2 separate regions of the Homo sapiens genome follow, and region 2 is linked to region 1. The links come from fine-mapping of genetic effects on gene expression. A gene starts in region 1. The other region holds a variant in brackets. All regions are shown on one strand. Distances are between the middles of the regions.

Region 1 (9,899 bases):
TGGCTCACCGCAACCTCCGCCTCCTGGGTTCAAGTGATTCTCCTGCCTCAGCCTCCTGAGTAGCTGGGACTATAGGCACGCACCACCAAGCCCAGCTAATTTTTTGAGTTTTTAGTAGAGACGGGGTTTCACCATGTTGGCCAGGATGGTCTCGATCTCTTGACCTCATGATCCGCCCACCTCAGCCTCCCAAAGTGCTGGGATTACAGGTGTGAGCCACCATGCCCAACCCAACTTATAATTTTTAAACTACAGTGATGCAAAAATGATAGCGTGTTCGGTAGGACCCATACTTGAATTTTAAATTTTGATATTTTCTAGGGCTAGCGACTGGTATATTAAATGCATTTTCAACTTATATGTTCAGTTTGCAATGGGCTTATCAGGACATAACCCCATCATAAAAGTCAAGGAGCATTTGTATATTTTTCTGTCTTTAAGTTTCCATTTTTCTCACTGTGCCTTGAGATCTGTCTCTCACTGTTTCGACTTTTGTGTTTTTCTCTCTGGGTTACTGCCCTTTTTTTCCTGCTGACCAGAGCCAGCCATCTGACTTTCCTGCAAGGAGCTTTAGAACTTTCCAGAAGTGGCCAGACTTCTTCCCTTTGGCTGCTTTCTAGAACTATAGCACCAGTTTGGGGTCCCCGGGCACAGTCATAAGGTCTCAATTTTTGATGAAGACCTGAGTGAGCTTCAATACATAGGGCCTTTTCAGGGAGTAGAATTTCCCCACAGTGGGGTCTTAGTGTCAAAATAAAGATATTTGTCCCTTAACCCATACTGTGGTCCTGGATTTCATGGTAGTGTGTTCATGGAAACTTGCGAAGTTCATGGGTTGAGAGCAAGGAGGATGGGGCTCTGCACACAACTGGACCTACCGAGAAACGGGACCTGAACATGTCTTGCATTTAGCTGCCTCCTCCCCTGGATGGCACACTCCAGCTTTAGGGCCCTCGAGGAACAAGCAAATTCAGCCCCCTGATCTCCAAGGGTTGTTAGGCAACCAAGAAATGTGGTTATCATTAAAGGATGGGGCTGGGGGCTGGGTATTGGGGAATCGGTGGGCCTGCAGGATAGGCAAAGAACAACATAGCACATGGCAATGTTTTGATGTAATTTTCTAGAAAACAGGAGGCCACCATCCTAATATTGAGCATAGTGAAGTTCCATCAGGAGGGGAGTAAAGGTGTTTTCTAGGGGAAGAAAAGCTGCTGGAGCCCCTGTGTTCTGTATGGGGGTATGCCCATACCTCCCGGGATGGAGCAGGGGTGATCCTAGGGAGGAGCAGGAGGAGTGACTTTGAAGCCTTGGTCCTGGGGGGTGAGATCAAGGCCCATATTGGTAATCTTTCACCACGTCATCAGCTCCCCAACACCTTTCTGTACAAACTGCGGAAAGTTTGCAATGAGCAGATCAGGAATAGCTTATCACAGAGACAAAGCTGTACAGAAATGGATCACAAATATTTTATCCACTCTCATGCTTCCAACTAGTTCCACTCTGATTTATTTTTCACCCTCCTCTCTCCCTAAGCACAAGGGACTCTCCCCCAGCCTCTGACTCTTCTCTGACCTGGGACTTCACTGCAGGCAGACAGGATATTACTCACCAAGGAGCTCTCTCATCTACTCCTACCCCCAACTCATCCTCCTGCACCCCACTCTCACTCCCACCCCTTCCAACCTGGGCCCACTCCTTCCCTCCCCCACTCAATCTGACCCTCACTCTCACTCTTCTTCTCCCCCACACCACCCCACCCATCCTTGTCCCTCTCTGACTCACCTCAAGTCCCATTGACACAAACAAAAATTTCAGCACAACCCACTCCAACCGGTTTGGCTGAGGCGTGCAGCCTGTCATGGGGACAGAGACAGGTATAAGCGGATGCTTGGATGCATGCAGATCATGAAGAACATCCGCTGCTGTGCATACAGAGACAGTCCCACATATGTGCATAGCATGTATGTGTACAGAGATACGTAGGGAACACATGATGGTGGGATATAGCATGTTACAGTTGTTTCTGTGTCTGCCTCTCCTGATTGAAGGCTCCTTGAGGGCAGGGACTATGTGTTATGTGTCTCGGTCTCCTCCCTTGAGCCTGACACATAGTGGCACTCATTTAATGTCTGTTGAAGGAATGCATGGGTGCAGGCGCGCACGCAGCAATGTCACTCAGACAAACACACATGATAAAGACACTATCATGGCTTGAATTGTTCTCATTCTTAGCGACCACAATGTGGGTAGGAGGAGGGTAGGAGTGAGGCATGTGGGGAATGGGAATTCAATATGGAAGGGAGAACCGAACCAGGATACCAGGCATTGGTCTTGAAAATCTTCCTCATCCAATATTTCCTTCCAGTCTCAATCCTAGAATATGCCTTCCCCAGCCTTCATCCTAGGAGAGGGTAGGAAAGGCCTAAGTTTGAGGGCATATTCTCCAAAAGCATGGCTCTTGTGAGACATACAGGGCTGAGGGGAAGGAGGGGACAGAGGGACTTGAGATAGGTATTTGTGAAATGAGGAGAGAGATCCCTAACTCTGTCAAAGGCCTGGAGTGGGCTGCTGGACTCTAGTGCTCCCTCTCAGGCCCTGTGGTGCCCTTAGCCTACTTCAAGGCTGCATCATACCCATGAAAAAATGAGTATAGCCATACCCTAACTCCACCTCTGGACAGTTCTGCCTCCTTTCCATGCTCCGTATGGCTAGAGTTCAGGGTGAGTGATTAAGGGGCCCAACCAGGGGTTCAGAGACATCCTGACTGGTAGCACTTTCACGGGGTATACTGTGAATGGATAGGCTGAAGGAGATTGGATATCCATCTTGTGAACTAACTGCTTTTCCACTCCTGTGCCTCAGTTTCTCCTGTGGCTTCCTGTACCTGGAGGGGTGAATCCGTGGGAAGGAAAGCAGCTCCTCCGAAAGCATGCGATAGGATCCAAGGTGTGATAATTATAATTATAACACAGGATGCTCCCCCTCCCATTCCCGCTGGCCCTACTCCACCCCTGCCACAGAGGATCTCAAAGCAGCATCTGGGTGGGGCTGTTCCCCTGGCACAGGTGGGGACCTGAAAAAGAGAAGGGGTTGGAGGTGGAGAGAAACTGGGGAATTCTGGCAACCGGCCTGGCCTTTAAGGGCCTCTGACCTGCAGGAAATAGCCCCTGAAGAAGAGGTCACTGCCGTGGTCATTTGGCATCTAGAGCCAGAGTTGGGGTCATAGTCCAGTGACAGGAGTAAAGTCCAGGTCACAACCCTAGTTCAGGATAGTAACTCACAGCCAGTCGGGATCTCTGCTTTACTGATCCGACTTCACCATCCTTTTCATCCGGACAACTCATTTATTCAGAAATTCATGGCTTCACCAAAATGTAGTCAGTTCCCATGAAATGCTGTGGCCTGTCCTAGCATGGAAGACTGAGACAAGATTATAAAACAAGCCCAACTTTCAAGGAGTTCACAGGCTACAACTCTTGTCCTGTCCCGCAATTTAATACATTTACTGAATTCCTGGCACACAGCAGGCCTCAATCGATGTTTTTTTGACTTGAAGCTTACAATTTAGTTAAGGAGATAAGATGTGCACAAATTATGAGCACATAAGCTATAATAAAAGGACTAGCAAAGGCTGAGGAAGAATAGAAGAAAGATTAATTTGGGGTGGGAGGAGCAGAGAAGGCTTCACGAAGATGTGGCATTTGAGGTCAGCTTTGAAAGATGAATAAGAGTTTGACAGGTAGAGTTGGTGGGGATGGTGGTGGTAGAAAATCTACACAGAACAACTCTTCCTTATGGCTTCTTTATTCCTCCTTTCTGCCTTCTCCAGATGGAAGGGTCCTATGGCAAAACTTTAACCTATATTTTTTTCTTCTCCCACGTCTATCTCTGTATTTACCTGGTTTTTGTATTAGCCCTAGACTGCAAGTGATGTTGTCCCTCCCGTTCACTAAATTTTCAGTGGGCTCAGAATATGCCCTCTTCCTCTGGCTATCCCAGGGAGGCCAGGAAGGTTTTGTGTAATTTGGCGGTCACTTTTTATGCATTCAGAATGGAAACACATGGTCTGACAAGGATGTACTTATAGGAATACAGGGCTAGAGTACTTGAAATTAAGATTCTCCTTGCAAAGTCCAGACATGTGGTCTTGTCCAATGACCTTGGAGTAAACTGGGTAAAATGGCCATGGAGAGGGTAGAGAGGAACCTCTCTCCATTCAAGTTGTGCTGCTGCGCTTTTGGGACTCCTGGCCAGGTAACAAGGTGTTGAAGCTGAGAGAGGGCCCTGATAGGGAAACCAGGAACCCCTACGGCTAATTCCTTGGCCACTTCCTTGGCCTCTTATATATGGAGGTGGAGTTAGAGGAGTTACGTAAGTTCTTTCTCAGGGGTCTTTGAACTACTTCCCTACTTCAGGGATAGAGGTGTCTGAGCAAACCATGAGACTAAGTTGTGTGTCCTCTGGCAAGTCCCTCCCCTTCTCTGGGCCTTGGTTTTCTCTTCTGAAGAATGAAGTATACAGCGCAGCACTGACAGACTCCTTCCTCCTCAGTTCTGGCCTTCTCCGATTCTGTGGCTCCAAAGCTGAGACCCTCCAGGAGATCCGGGAACTTGTCAAGGCCCCCAGGAGGTACCAAGGCTAGCTGGGGTGTGGGACGCTTGGGTTCCTTTCTACCCACAAGGGCCTTGCCCCTTTCATCCTGGCCTGGCCTGGTGCCCTGGGCCTCCCTTAGTCCCCACCCTTGCCTCTCCCTTCATAGCCCCTTCCACATACTCGCAGGTAAAGCCTGGAGCTGAGGATGGGACCCCACCGCCCCCACCCAGGTCCTTCCCTCCTTCCCTCCCTCCCTGGCGCCTATTAGCTAGCCCAGGCCATGGGGGCGGTGGCTGCTGAGTCTCCGTGCCAGGCCCAGCCCCCAGAGACGCACCTGTTCTGACCTGCTGAGCAGGTTCCCAGGTTTCTGCCGTCGTTGTTGGCCACAGCGTGGGAAGCAGCTCTGGGGGAGCTCGGAGCTCCCGATCACGGCTTCTTGGGGGTAGCTACGGCTGGGTGTGTAGAACGGGGCCGGGGCTGGGGCTGGGTCCCCTAGTGGAGACCCAAGTGCGAGAGGCAAGAACTCTGCAGCTTCCTGCCTTCTGGGTCAGTTCCTTATTCAAGTCTGCAGCCGGCTCCCAGGGAGATCTCGGTGGAACTTCAGAAACGCTGGGCAGTCTGCCTTTCAACCATGCCCCTGTCCCTGGGAGCCGAGATGTGGGGGCCTGAGGCCTGGCTGCTGCTGCTGCTACTGCTGGCATCATTTACAGGTAGGACTTGCCTGAACCATCAGGACACTTGCTTCTGAGCCCAACCTGGCACTGACACACATGCACAAACACATAGACACACACGCACGCACACACATATCCTCCTTTCTTTGACTCTGAACTGAGGATCCAGTCTCTCCTGCCCCCAGCTTCCAGCAGTGCCCCCAGAAAAGCCAGTATAGCCCTCCCCCTTCTTGTTTCCTCCCAGCCCCCAGGCCAGGTCACTATGTCTGGGATCCCTGACACCTCTGCCAAAGCCTTGCCTAGGCCTGAGCTGTCTTGGGGAATAGACGTGGTGACCCAGTGTAGATGGGCAGGCAGGTGGGACTTGTGAGGATCCTGTTCACCCCAGGGTTTCCTAGAGGTGCCTTGGCCTACCCCCTGGGCTCTGGAACGGCTGCCTGGAACTGGGGCTGACTCAGAGCTCAGCTGGTTTCTGCAGTCATCAGGGTGCAGGAAGCCTGATGCCCAGAGAGTGGATGGGGGATTTCTATTTCCTTCTTTTCTCTCCATGATGTTCTAGAGCACCAGGACTGGGGCACCTGTTGGGGACTATAGGAGAGCTGAGAATGCCCGTCACTCTGACCCCTTCCTTTCCCTGGGCACAATATTAGGTGCCAGGGTGGTAATAAGGGGGTTTAGATGGATGGGGGTCTAAGGAAGGGAACCTTCTAGATAGGGTGTGGTCCCCATTTGTTCATCTCCTGTTCCCCCATTTTCTTAACTAGATGCCTTGTATTACTTCTCACCTCCTGTCTGTCTAATGCATATAGAGCAAATATGAATTATAGGAATGTATAATCTTCAGAGTAGAGGAGAGTGTGTGTGCGTGTGTGTGCACAGTGAGACCTCAGTGGGATTCCATAGGGTGTTCCTAGGGTAATGAGTAACAGAAATATTTCTCCTTCAAAAGATAGGGCCTGATCTGGACAGGACAGTTTGATTCTCAGGCCCAGGAGCAGTAGCAAGGGAGCCTCTGTTGCCCAGCAAGATCTGGCAGTGATTCCCCTACCTCCATCTCCAGCCAAAGCTTTGAGGAGGGAAATAAGGCCTAGATGTGTGGATTGGTGGAGGTATGGGCTGCTCCAACTCTGATTTTATTATAGGTCATGGGCCCAGCCTCCAGTCGTAGGATACTGAGCTCCTACCCCTGCCATCCCCTCACAGTCCCCTACCACCTGTGTTTTAATTCCCATCTTCCAGATAATCCTTCTCACTTGTTTAGGCCAAAAAGGTGGAGCCTAGTTGCTGGAGTTGGGGAACCAGCAGTCACTTTCCTGTGGGATCTACCCACACTTAAAGAGTGGAGTCATGCCATCTCAGGACTTGGAAGAGATCAAAGAGATCACCACTCCAACTCTCTCATTTTACAGATGAAAAAACTGAGAGAGATAGGCAAGTGAGATCTGCAAGATTACTCAACGTTAGGAGTAGACACACACGCACACACACAAACATCTCTTTCCTATGACTCTGAACTGAGGAGCCAATCTCTCTCTCCCACCCCCAGCTTCCAGCAGTACCCCCAGAAGAGCCAGTGTAGCCCTTCCCTTTCATGTTCCCTCCCAGCCCCCAGGCCCGGTCACTATGGCTGGAATCCCTGATTACCTCTGCTCAGTGTTAGAAGCATAACCAGGGTTAGTGTCTTGGTGTTCTCACTCTAAGTTCATTGAAGAATAGTACATTTGAGTGCACACTGGGTACAACCTGGATACTAGATGCTGGAGATGCAATGGTGACTGCATCACATGGTTCTTGCCTTTCTTTTCCATGATGGCAAAACTGTTCTTACTAAGAGAAGCCCAGGGAAGGGGACAGGAGACCCCCTTCTAGTTAGACCTCATGCAATGCCTGGCAGTAAGGGAGGAAGCCTGGCTCCAGATTGCCCCAGGAAGCTGGCACCTGGTAGGAGGCCACTCTGCTGCTGCTGCAGCAGCTACAACCTGCACAGAGCTGAGGTTGCTCTGGGGGCTGGAGGCTCCTAGCCTGAGGATCAGATGGTCCTACCTCCACTACCACCCCCATTCTGGCTCTTCTGTGTGTAGACTCTCCTTAATGGCTCCCAGGAACCTGGAATGTTTCATGTCTCTGAAAAAATCCTTGGACTGGGAAGTCAGGAGTCTTGGTCCAGATCCCGTTTCTGCTATTAATCTATTTGGTAACCTTGGGCAGCGATGAAACCAGACTTCAGTAGACCGAGAGCTAGGACCAGATGATCTCTATTGACCTTCCAGCTCTGAAATACGATGACTCTGTGATGGTCCAGGCCTGGCTGAAGTGGGGTGCTGGGGTGTTGGAAGGGTCACTGGGTCTGGCTGTGGAGATAGGAGGAGGAAAGCGTTCTGGTCGCATCTCTCAGAGGGTACCAGAGTACCTTTCCCCAGGCCTTCCTGGCCCTACTGCAAATTCACCCCCCACCCAAATCCTGGGCCATTAGAGCTCTGAGCCCCAGGGCCCTGCCCCACCCCTGACAGGGAAAGGAGCCCAGGCTTGGGAGGCGCCTCAGCACCACAGCTCTTTGTCTCTCCTTAATGGGTTGAGTTTCCGGGTGAAGTCTCCTCCCTTCTCCCTCCCCCATCTCTTGCCCTGGGGCTGAGGGACCCAAATCCACGAGACACCCCTCCCCCCATTAGGATCCTAGTCCCTAGCTCTTTGTCGGGTTCAGGAGCCCTGCAGGACCAAAGGGCAAGTGGTGCTCTGCATTCTGAGGTCTGCCTTCTGGGGGTTAGGATCAGCTTTCTGTCTGAGGTTAATTTCCTTGAAAGGGAGGGGCCCATCCTTACTTTTCTACTCCTGTTTACAGAGGGGGGCAGGCCCTTTCCTGTAGGACCTACCCAAACCCAGGGAAGCCAGCAAGGGAGGTGGTGAGAACTGGGAGAATCCCAGGGAAGCCCTGTGACCCCAGTGACCTTGTTCCCACCCTAGTGTTTAAGGAGGCCGGGCCAAGGAGAGCCTAGCTACAGAGATGAGGAGGTTAGAGTTCATGATTCCATCAGCCAGACCAGAGCCTCAGGATCTGGGGGTCCTCTAGGCAAAGTGAATGGGGATTAGCTACTTTGGGGCCCAGTGAGGAGAGAATGATTGGATGTTCTAGCCTCCAAAAACTTGCCCTTGCTCTGACCGAAGTCTAGGCAGAGAGAAGGGATGGAGGTGATGTGGGGAACGAAGTCAGAAGGGAAGGGAGTAGAGAAGCCTAGGGTCTTAATTTGGGAAGAGAATCTAAATGAGGAGGGGGCCAGGCGTGGTGGCTCACGCCTATAATCCCAGCACTTTGGGAGGCCAAGGCAGGTGAATCCCTTGAGGCCAGGAGTTTGAGACCAGCCTGGGCAACACGGCAAAATCCCGTCTCTACAAAAAATACAAAAGTTAGCCAGGCATGGTAGTATACCTGTGGTCCCAGCTACTTGGGAGGATTGCCTGAATCCAAGGAGACTGAAGTTGCAGTGAGCCATGATCGCGCCACTACACTCTAGCCTGGGTGACAGAGTGAGACTCTGTGTCAAAAAAAAAAAAAAAAAAAGAGGAGGCGAAGTTCAGAACTGGGGAGACATCTGCCATGCCTCCTAAAGGAAGGCCGTGGAGAAGGCGGCTGAGGTCACTCTTTCACTGGAACAGGCAGCCTCTGGCCTCAGGAGATTTTCTCATAGTTTTCTGGCCACCCCCACCCCCTTCCCTCTAAATCTGGTGTGTCCTGAGAGCTGGAGTTGAGGCTGTGATTTGGGATGGGGCAGAGCTGGCCATGGTGGGTGGAGGGGCAGTGTGGAGCAGGGGTTAGGATCTCAGGAGTTTGGGAGAAGCTGAATCCTGGTTCTCCCACCCACAGTGTGGCTGTTGTGGTGACTCAGCCAGGCTCAGACTCTGGCTCCGGGGGGTTTAGGGGACTTATCTGTGCTGGGAGCTGTGTCTGGGCCAGAGTGGGGCTGCCTCAAGGCCTGTCCTCCCCATTGTTCTCATCTCCCTTTGTGATTGTGTGGCCCCCCTCCCCAGACACTAATCTGTGGGTGGGCGTTTTGCCCAGGCTGGGAAGCTCTCACTAAGCTGGGGGGCTTAGTACAATGGGGGGTAAGTGAGGGAGGTGGATGAAGGCGGAGAGGGAATCTTCTGGTTTTTAAAGTTCCTTAGCACTCCAAGGCCAAGGTTATGGGGCAAAGAGTGGATGGAAAGGGGTTTGCTGGGTTGTTTGTGTCACCTGTCCTGGATGGTGAGCTTCGGTGCGTCCCTCCTAGGTCCTTTCTCACCCCAGACTCACCCACATACTCCAGCTCTCGGTGGAGATTGTTGCTGTCAGGTAAGGGGAGGCAGGAGTTAACAAAGGAGCATGAGACCCTAGACAGCCTGGACCCCTCCCCCTAGCCCCAGGCAGGATTCCCCTCACCCCCCCAAACCCACACCAGACAACCCTTACCCAGGCCTGGAGCCAGAGCTGGTTTTTCTGGTGGTGGCAGCAGCAGAGCCCTGACAGAGATTCCCAGGGAGAGGCCTCCTTGGGGGGCCAGAGCTGCTGAGGGGCCCAGGGGAGTGGCTGGGGGTAGTGGTGAGAAGGTTGGCAGTCCTTTTAGTAGGAACCTGAGGAGCAAGGGGAGAGGGAACATTTGT
Region 2 (10,020 bases), 400 kb after region 1:
GCAACTCCTGCCACAGCAGCCGTAGCTGTGACTGCAATTAATCCCATAATCACTGCAATTAAAGTAAAAATGAATCTTTTGGATCTATTTAAAATGCCTTTTAATATTTCAGTCAAAATATGGATGGATGGCGAGGCCTCCCACGGTCGGTCCGTGGACACAGGGATCCACATGCCTTCTCTTGCTCTCACCAGCAGAATACGGTGCTGCCAATTAAAAGTTGAATCAATGCAAGTAAACAATCTACAATTTTCACAGGTTATAGTTTGGGAGGCTGGTTTAATAACTATATTTCCTACAACTAGCATATAAGGGGGCTTTATGCAACTTTGTAAAGGAACCGTTAGAATGGAATTTAGGTCGATAGTATAAAATGGCTTACGATATCTTGTTTCTAAAGTTTGATTTCCAGACCAAATTCTAATGTGGTGTGAGGCCACAGTAAGCCTCCACAATTCTGGATGTTCAGGACCAGAAACAGGACTTATTATTTTTGGTCTTGGGGTAGAGATTCCTTTTTCTTCCCATTCCCAAAGGTAGAAAGACTGTAATTTTTTATGCTTATGTTTGTCTAGACTTTCTGTTAAGTCGCTATCAACAGCTGGACTCACTTGTGCACTTGGACACGACTGAGTTTGTCCTGAGCAATTGTGGTAGAATTGACCTCGAGGTGCCCAATCTATAATAGTTTCGAATTCATTGTTTTGTAATATCACCACACTATTGGCCACACATTCTTCCCAAACTAAAACTTCTGTATTCTTTGATCCTTTAGGAATTTCCTTGGGGCAAGTTTTCCCTTTAGGTCTAAATTTTAATGATCTTTGATAAGAAAAGTCTTGTAAATAATTTACCCGTGGCCTGAGTGACATCCCGCTTACCATGTGATAAGTGAATCTACTGTTAGGACTGACAGTAGGTACTTCTACCAACCAATTTTGGACTGCAGGCATTAAACATCCTGGTGCTCTCCCTAGGCAAATAGGAGGATAATGATACCCAATGGAAATATTTATCATCATCCCTTCTTCCTCAGGTTTGGCAGGGCAGCGATCATCTGTGGGGCCAGGTACCCATACACTATCATTAACATATACTTCTATAGGATTATCCATCCATGTGACTGGTGTTACCATCTCCGTGGAGGCGCTTTTCTTTGCATCTCTGATGGGTTCATTGTAGAACTTCAAATGTCTAGTGGGTATCCAAACAGGAAGCTGATTTTCTCCTGGTGAAACACAAGCAAAACCTCTCCCCCACGTTATCAGCTTCCCTATTTCCCATGTCTTATTTTAATTATCTTTCCACTAAATTAGTTTTCCTTCATGTGGGCTGTTCTTTTTACCAGTAAGATGTTCTGCAGAAGTAGTAGTCTGATTTCTATAAATGTTTAAAAAATTTAAAGTATAGAGTGCTAGATTAAGTTGCATCTGAGGAGTGGTACACTCCTTACTGTCTCCCCCTTCTTTTTGTTTAACTAATTGAGTTTTGAGTGTTCTATTAGTTCTTTCAACTATGGCCTGTCCTTGGGAATTATAAGGAATTCCTGTTGTATGTGAAATTTTCCACTGACTTAAGAATTTTTGGAAAGCTTTACTACAATATCCTGGTCCATTGTCAGTTTTGATTTTTTCTGGAACTCCCATTACAGCAAAACAAGACAATAAATGTTTTTTAACATGGGAAGTACTTTCTCCTGTTTGGCAAGTTGCCCACATGAAATGTGAATAAGTATCAACTGTTACATGACATATGATAATCTTCCAAATGAAGGTACATGCGTGACATCCATTTGCCATAATGCATTAGGACACAGACCTCTGGGTTAACTCCTGCCTCTTGAGTGGGCAGGTCTAAGACTTGACACTGGGTGCAATGTTGTACAATATCTTTTGCCTGTTTCTATGTGACATCAAATTTGTTTTTTAATCCTGCTGCATTTACATGAGTCAAAGCATGAAGTTCTTGTGCTTTTATGAATGCAGATGATACCAGTAAGTCAGCTTGTTCATTTGCTTTAGTCAAAGGCCCTGGTAAATTAGTGTGTGCTCGAATATGAGTAATATAAAATGGGAAGTTTCTTTTTCTTACAGTTTGTTGTAATAAATTGAATAGCTGGTTTAACTGATCGTCCATGCTATATTTAATTAGAGCTGTCTCAACATCCCTTGTAGCCTGTACTACATATGCAGAATCTGATATAATATTGATAGGTTGATCAAAATCTTGTAACACTGTAATGACTGCAACCAACTCTGCTCTTTGAGCCGATTGATATGGAGTTTTGATTACTCGTTCTTTTGGCCCTGTGTAAGCCACTTTTCCATTGCTGGAACCATCAGTAAATACTGTTAGAGCATTTTCTAAAGGTTCACATCTGGTAATTTTAGGTAGAATCCAAGTAGTCAATTTTAAGAACTGGAAGATTTTTGTTTTTGGGTAATGATTATCAATAATTCCCACAAAATTAGCAAGACCAATCTGCCATGCACCAGAATTGATAAAGGCTTGTCTAACTTGTTCCTTGGTTAAAGGGACAACTATTTTGTCTGGGTCATTTCCACATAATTTTATTATTCGTAATCTTGTCGGACCAATTAAAGTAGCTATTTGATCCAAGTACAATGTAAAAGTCTTAACTGTACTGTGAGGAAGGAATGACCACTCCACAAGATCAGTATTTTGAATAATGATGCCTGTTGGAGAATGTGCAGTGGCAAAAATCAAAAGTTGGAGTGGGGCTAAGGGATCTATTCTATTTATTTGCGCTGACTGAATTTTTTCTTCCACTAATTTAATTTCTTTTGTTGCCTCTGGGGTTAACATTCTTTTACTATTTAAGTCTGAGTCTCCTCTTAAGATAGAGAACAAATTTGACATGGCATAAGTAGGAATGCCTAGAGTTGGCCGAATCCAATTAATATCTCCCAGCAATTTTTGAAAATCATTTAGTGTTTTTAATGTGTCTTTTCTTATTTCTATTTTTTGTGGCTTAATTTTTCTATTTTCTATCTGCATCCCTAAATAATGAAAAGGAGTAGAGGTTTGGATCTTATCAGATGCTATTGCCAGTCCTGCATTGGCAACCTCTGCTTGCAGAAATGTATAACAGTCAATTAATTTATCTTTCGTTTCTGCAGCACATAAAATATCATCAAAATAATGAATAATATAACAGTCTGAAAACTTGTCTCTAACTGGTTGAAGAGCTCGACCTACAAAAGTCTGACAAATAGTTGGACTATTAAGCATTCCCTGAGGTAACACTTTCCACTGAAACCTGGTGGCTGGTTCTTTATTATTTATGGCTGGTATAGTAAAGGCAAATTTTTCACAATCCTGCTCTGCCAGAGGGATGGTAAAAAAGCAGTCCTTTAGATCAATTATAATTAAAGGCCAATCTTTTGGGATCATGGCTGGAGAGGGCAACCCAGGTTGGAGAGGCCCCATGGGTTGAATTACGGCATTTACAGCCCTTAAGTCAGTTAACATACGCCATTTGCTGGATTTCTTCTGAATTACAAACACAGGAGAATTCCAAGGCGAGAATGAAGGCTCAATATGTCCCTTTTCTAACTGTTCATTTGCTAATAAATGTAAAGCCTCCAGTTTTTGTTTTGGTAGCGGCCACTGATTTACCCACACCAGTTTTTCTGTTTTCCAAGTTAACGGTATGGGTTTAGGAGGCTCTACAGTGGTCACCCCTAAAAAGGATACCCTGTTCCTTCTCTTCCGTGATTTATTTTAGCCTCAATTGGAACTTTAATGCCATCTTCATTTTTTCCTAGTCCCTTTCCTGGTATATATCCCATCTTGGTCATGATTTTTTGACTCATGGGGCTATATAATGTAGCGGTCATGGTGATTTCCGCACCCCATTGTTGTAACAAATCTCGACCCCACAGATTAAGAGGAATTGAAGTGATCATTGGCTGAACAGTACTTTCTTGATTATGTGGCCCTAAGCAATGTAAAATCTCAGTACTCTGATACACTTCTGAGGCTGTGACTATGCCGACAAGTCCTGTAACAGTCTTTTGTTTAGGCCAATTTTTTGGCCACTGATTTAAAGCAATGATAGAGACATCTGCTCCAGTGTCTACCAATCCTTCAAGCTGTTTTCCTTGAATAACGGCCTTACACACAGGTCTGTTCTCTGAGACCTGACTTGCCCAATATGCAGCCTTTCCTGTCGGATCAGTGCTTCCAAACCCTCCTGTTCTTTTTATTTCACTATTTCCAACCTTAATATATGGCAGGAGTAATAATCGAGCAATCCTGTCTCCTGGACTGGCACTCCAAGGAATTGAAGAGCTAATAACCAATTGAATTTCACCTTTATAGTCTGAATCAACCACACCAGTATGAATTTGAACTCCTTTTAGATTTAGACGTGATCTTCCCAAGATTAGTCCTACAGTCTCCTCAGGCAGCGGGCCATATACTCCTGTGGGGATTTTTTGTGGGGGCTCCCCTGGAAGCAGAGAGACTGCTTGTATAGTACATAAATCTACTGCTGCACTGCCACTTGTGGCGGGGGACAATTGTTGTACTGTGGTAACTGGCTTATTCCCTGAGGTACTTGGGACAGTGGGGGTTGTTGTCCCTGAAAACCCTGAGGAACAAAGGGCTGAATTGGGAATGCCCCAGTTTGTTGCAGGGCCTGAGGCTGGCCCCTTTGCTAGTTTCCCGACAATGGTTGCCCATTTTTATCAAATTTGGAACGACATTGACTAGCCCTTTTGGTAGTTTCCCGACAATGATTGCCCATTTTTATCAAATTTAGAATGACATTGACTAGCCCAATGTTTTCCTTTTTTACATCTTGGACATAAGTCAGGTGGCTCTCTACCTGTTGTTGTAGTAGCTTGAATAGTTATATTCTGTTTATTTAAGACTGGGCAATTCTTTTTTAAATGACCAATTTGACCACAATTATAACATTTTCCTCCAAATGTTCTAACTTGTCCTCCTAAAACAACTCCTGTTATTGCTTGGGCCATAAGCATAGCTTTATGCGTAGCTCCTCCAATTCCATCACGGGCTTTTACATACTCTGAGATTACATCTGATCCTGCGGGAACCTTTCCTTTTAATGGCTTAATGGCTGATTGACACTCAGGATTGGCGTTTTCGTATGCCATCAACTCCACTATGACCTTACGGGCTTTTTCACTGGCAATTGACTTTTGAGCAACATCTTGGAGCCTTGCCACAAAATCAGGGTAGGGCTCTTTTGAACCTTGTCTTACTGTATTAAATGTGGAGCAGGCGCTTCCTGGGTCTTGGATTTTTTCCCAGGCTCTAAGGCAGATAGCTCTAACTTGCTCAATGGC[C/T]TCATTTTGCATTAATGCTTGTTGACTAATAGTGCTCCAATTTTGACCTGTTCCTAATAGTTGATCTGCATCTATGTTAACTGGAGGATTGGCAGCCCTATTTCTTCGGACCTGTTCTTGTGCCCCATCAATTCACCAAGTCTTAAATTGTAAAAATTGAGAGGGTGAGAGAGATGATTTTGCCAGAATCTCCCAATCATAAGGAATGAGTCTATGTCCATGAGCAATGGAATCTAATAATGTCCTCATATAAGGGGAGTTGGGTCCATACTGTTTTACTCCCTCTTTCATATCTTTTAGCATTTTTATCTAAAAAGACTTGTATCTGGCCTCAACTGTGAGAGGCTCTCCCTCTTGGGCTCCTTCTCCAGGTGGCATCGGTTCTAACGTTACTGGGAATTGCCACGCCTCAGTATCTCCTTCCTTTCTTGACTTCTCAATAATTTCATGTAATTCACTACCCTGTCTACTAGGTGGTGCCATAGGATTGTCTCCTAGTGGGCGGCTGAGGGTATGGCTCCCTGCCCTGTGGTGCTGGGGGCATTCCTAGATATCCATACTGACTTTCTGGGGGTGGCCGATACTGAAGTTCGGCCGGTGGCCAGTATTGATAAGCTACTGGCAGTTGGGTCTTATTTTCTCTAACCTGCGCTTGAGGTTGTAATGTTACGGTCACCTGACCTGCTGAAAGAGGACTTGGCCCTCGTGGTTTAGACTCTAATGGCCCCACTAATTCTGGACCTTTTCCTTCTAATTTTAATGTTTCAGGATATATCACCTCCTGTAATTGATTATAGTCAACATTTTGCGTTGACTGAGCCATTAACGGCTCTGCTACATATTCGCAATGTAAAGTTTCCGTTTCCTTCTGGGATTTTTTCCTTGTCTTTTCATTACAATCTATTATACAGCTTCCAGGGGCATCAGAAACTGAAACGCTATCTTCTGTTTGAAATGGTTCTAAAGCTGCTTTAATAATGGGCCAATCATTCCATACTGTAAGTGGAATGATATTACCCTTCCTACCTGCTTGTTTTAGTTCCTTACCAATTCTTTTCCAATCTTCTAGATCTAAATTTCCTTGTTCTGGAAACCATGGGCAAAATTGTTCTGTTGTTTGAAATAGCTTGATTAGATTTTTGGTGGATACTCTAACTCCCCCTCTTTTTAAAAGAATTTTAATGAAGCTAAGATAAGAGGCATATTTACTTTTAGTTTTAGTTTGCCCCATTGTCACCCTAGCTTCTTCCGAGTGCACAAGCTTACCGTAAGGCTGACTGTAGATGTACTCGGGATCTCTTGTCGACTTGTCCTCAATGACCACGCTCGAGTGTACCTTCACCCCAGAGAAAAGCCTCCACGTTGGGCACCAGATGAAGGGGTGGGTTGCCCCTCCACACCTGTGGGTGTTTCTCGTAAGGTGCAATGAGAGACTTGGAAAAGAAAAAGACACAGAGACAAAGTATAGAGAAAGAAATAAGGGGGCCCGGGGAACCAACGTTCAGCATATGGAGGATCCCACCAGCCTCTGAGTCCCCTTAGTATTTATTGATCATTCGTGGGTGTTTCTCCGAGAGGGAGATGTGTCAGGGTCACAAGACAATAGTGGGGAGAGGGTGAGCAGACAAACACGTGAACAAAGGTCTTTGCATCATAGACAAGGTAAAGGATTAAATGCTGTGCTTTTAGATATGCATACACATAAACATCTCAATGCTTTACAAAGCAGTATTGCTGCCTGCATGTCCCACCTCCAGCCCTAAGGTGGTTTCTCCCTATCTCAGTAGGTGGAACGTACAATCGGGTTTTATACCGAGACATTCCATTGCCCAGGGATGGGCGGGAAACAGATGCCTTCCTCTTGTCTCAACTGCAAGAGACATGCTTTCCTCTTATACTAATCCTCCTCAGCACAGACCCTTTACGGGTGTCGGGCTGGGGGACGGTCAGGTCTTTCCCTTCCCACGAGGCCATATTTCAGACTATCACATGGGGAGAAACCTTGGACAATACCTGGCTTTCCTAGGCAGAGGCCCCTGCAGGCTTCCGCAGTTTTTGTGTCCCTGGGTACTTGAGATTAGGGAGTGGTGATGACTCTTAATGAGCATGCTGCCTTCAAGCATCTGTTTAACAAAGCACATCTTGCACCGCCCTTAATCCATTTAACCCTGAGTTTGACACAGCACATGTTTCAGAGAGCACGGGGTTGGGGGTAAGGTCATAGATTAACAGCATCTCAAGGCAGAATAATTTTTCTTAGTACAGAACAAAATGGAGTCTCCTATGTCTACTTCTTTCTATACAGACACAGTAACAATCTGACCTCTCTTGCTTTTCCCCACAGTCTCAGATTCCGCTTATGTTGTACATGCCACTAAAAATATAGAAACTGCTACTATCAAACATATTGATAATTCTGAATTGGCTTCTTTATTTTCAAGGTTACAACAGGTGGTTCACCAGTGTAGACACCCTTCCTATATTACACATATTAGGTCTCATACCACTTTACCAGGACCCATGTCTGCTGGTAACCATGAAGTTGACTGTTTGGTGTCTTTAATGACCCAAGAAGCTCAGGAGTTCCATAATCTCACTCATGTCAATGCCACTGGCTTAAAAGATAAATTTGCTCTTACCTAGAAACAGGCTAAGTTTATTGTTCACAGCTGCCCTCAGTGCCAGGTCTTCGTACTTCCAAATCAGGAACCTGGTGTTAAGCCTAGAGGCCTAACTCCTAATGCTTGATGGCAAATGGATGTGACTCATGTTAGCTCCTTTGGCAGACTGTCATATGTGCATGTCTCAGTAGATACCTTCTCAGGTTTTATCTGGGCTACTTGACAAACAGGGGAAGGCACGGCCCATTTTTAAAAACATCTGTATTCTTGCTTTGCAGTTATGGGGCTTCCATATCAAATAAAGACAGACAATGCCCCTGGATATGTTAGTAAGGCTTTTGATTCATTTATACAACAGTAAGGAATTTCCCATATTACTAGAATCCCTTACAATCCTCAAGGACAGGCTGTGGTGGAACAGGCCAATCGCACTTTAAAAACCCAATTGTCCAAACAGTCTGAACAACCAAAACATGATTTAACTACTCCACACTCCCAATTACATTTGGCATTATTTACTTTAAATTTTTTAAATGTTCCTAAAGATAATACTGTAACTGCAGCCAAACGCCATTATACAGGCAAAAAATTTTCCATAAACGAAGGCAAGTCAGTGTTATGGAAAAACTCTCAAACCAATACCTAGGAACCTGGCACAATTATAACGTAGGGAAGAGGATATGCTTGTGTTTCACCAGGAGATCATCAATCCCATGTCTAGGTACCCACCAGAAGACTCAAGCTTCAGGTGAATACTGACAACTAAAACCACAGACAAAAAACATCTGTGTCAGAGATTGCCTTCAGACGTGGTGAGATCTCTGCTGACTCCTCAGAAACAGGCACACCAAATCACAATAGGTGTAAATCAATCCTCCCTGATGGCAGTGGAGACCCATCTAACTAATCCCACTTCTCCTGATTACTTTTCTTTTTCTCCTTACAAACCTAAAAATCTCACCATTTCTATTAGCCTGAAAATAACATCCCTCTGTTCTTCTCTTCCTCCTTCAGCACTCAATCTCACTTACACTAGGTTTTATTTAATGATTCTCCTCCTTATACTTTCTGTCTCACCAGTTTCCTCTCACACTGATTTACCTGCTACACATAATTATTCTTATTAGGCTTATGTGCCTTTTCCTCCACTTATTCGACCTCTCACCTAGATAGATGCTCCTGCAGAAATCTACACTAATGATAGTGTGTAGATGCCTAGAGCCACAGATGACCGTTGCCCTGCTCAACCAGGAGAAGAAGGCACTGCATTTAATGTTACCATAGATTATAAATACCCCCCTCTGTGCCTCGGACATGCACCTGGTTGCATCCACCTAGAAACTCAATTCTAGGCTGCTTATCTTCCGAAAACATCAGCTACAGATAAAATAGGACATTTAGTCTCTGGCCTCTCCCTTTCTCCTTTAAAACAAATGAAAGGAGAAGTAATGGGAGATACCCCATACTTTCAATATAAACCTGCAGGAAAACCATGCCCTAAAAATTTTGAGGGCCCATCTAAAACTTTAATTTAGGATGATTGTGTTAACTCACATGCAGTAATATTAAAAAATGACTCATATGGTTTAGTAATAGACTGGGCACCAAAGGGCTATTTAAAAAATAATTGCTCCTCTAGTGGAAGGGAATTCCTGGAGGCTAATTATTTTATTTCTTATCAGGAGAACGAGAATCATCATTCTACTTTGCATAGGAGGATCAGCTCATTCTTTCCCTTAAAATGGGAAGATAAAGGCATTACCCGCCCCCCAAGCCTCGTATGATACTCCCCATTCTGAGCCCAGAACACCCAGAACTTTGGAAATTGGCTATTGCCATGTCTGGACTGCGAGTATGGGAAGGGAAAACTATTTTGACTGTTGTTCCCACTACTGTCCCACTCTCTCAGTATCAACATAGACCCAGACATTCTGCTTTACTTACCTCCAACCTGACTATTCCCATACAGAGTTGTGTTAAGCCTCCTTACATGCTGTTAGTAGGAAATATTAAAATTTGGACAAATAATCAAACTTTCCAATGCATTAATTGTCATCTATACA

Which allele goes with the higher level. Alleles are on the strand shown, and positions count from the first base shown. SD is a standard deviation of normalised expression in the study named.
For the expression in skin of the gene that starts at base 4,963 in region 1, T is the high allele of the variant in region 2 and C is the other (moderate effect, 0.41 SD a copy in TwinsUK).

Evidence for each region. PIP is the estimated chance that this variant, and not a neighbour inherited with it, causes the effect. A credible set is the group of variants that fine-mapping cannot tell apart.
Region 2: its variant is the best candidate, but not a certain one, in a credible set for the expression of NECTIN4 in skin (TwinsUK, PIP 0.75).

What each region holds. Positions count from the first base shown.
Region 1 is chr1:161,084,622-161,094,520 of GRCh38, reverse strand. NECTIN4 (nectin cell adhesion molecule 4) reads left to right here and starts at 4,963. Exons shown (of 9, transcript NM_030916.3): 1 at 4,963-5,303. The coding sequence starts at 5,225. NECTIN4-AS1 (NECTIN4 antisense RNA 1) reads right to left here. Exons shown (of 4, transcript NR_183641.1): 2 at 9,709-9,869; 3 at 9,493-9,584; 4 at 3,789-7,618. RefSeq lists an enhancer at 1,646-1,745.
Region 2 is chr1:160,688,444-160,698,463 of GRCh38, reverse strand. The region is part of intron 1 of CD48 (CD48 molecule); the gene reads left to right. It overlaps LOC124904439 (endogenous retrovirus group K member 18 Env polyprotein), which reads right to left. Exons shown (of 1, transcript XM_047438433.1): 1 at 1-10,020. The coding sequence starts at 1,136. Among named protein-coding and RNA genes, the nearest start is that of CD48, 18 kb to the left of the region's middle. The variant C/T (reference allele first, on the strand shown) is at 5,337.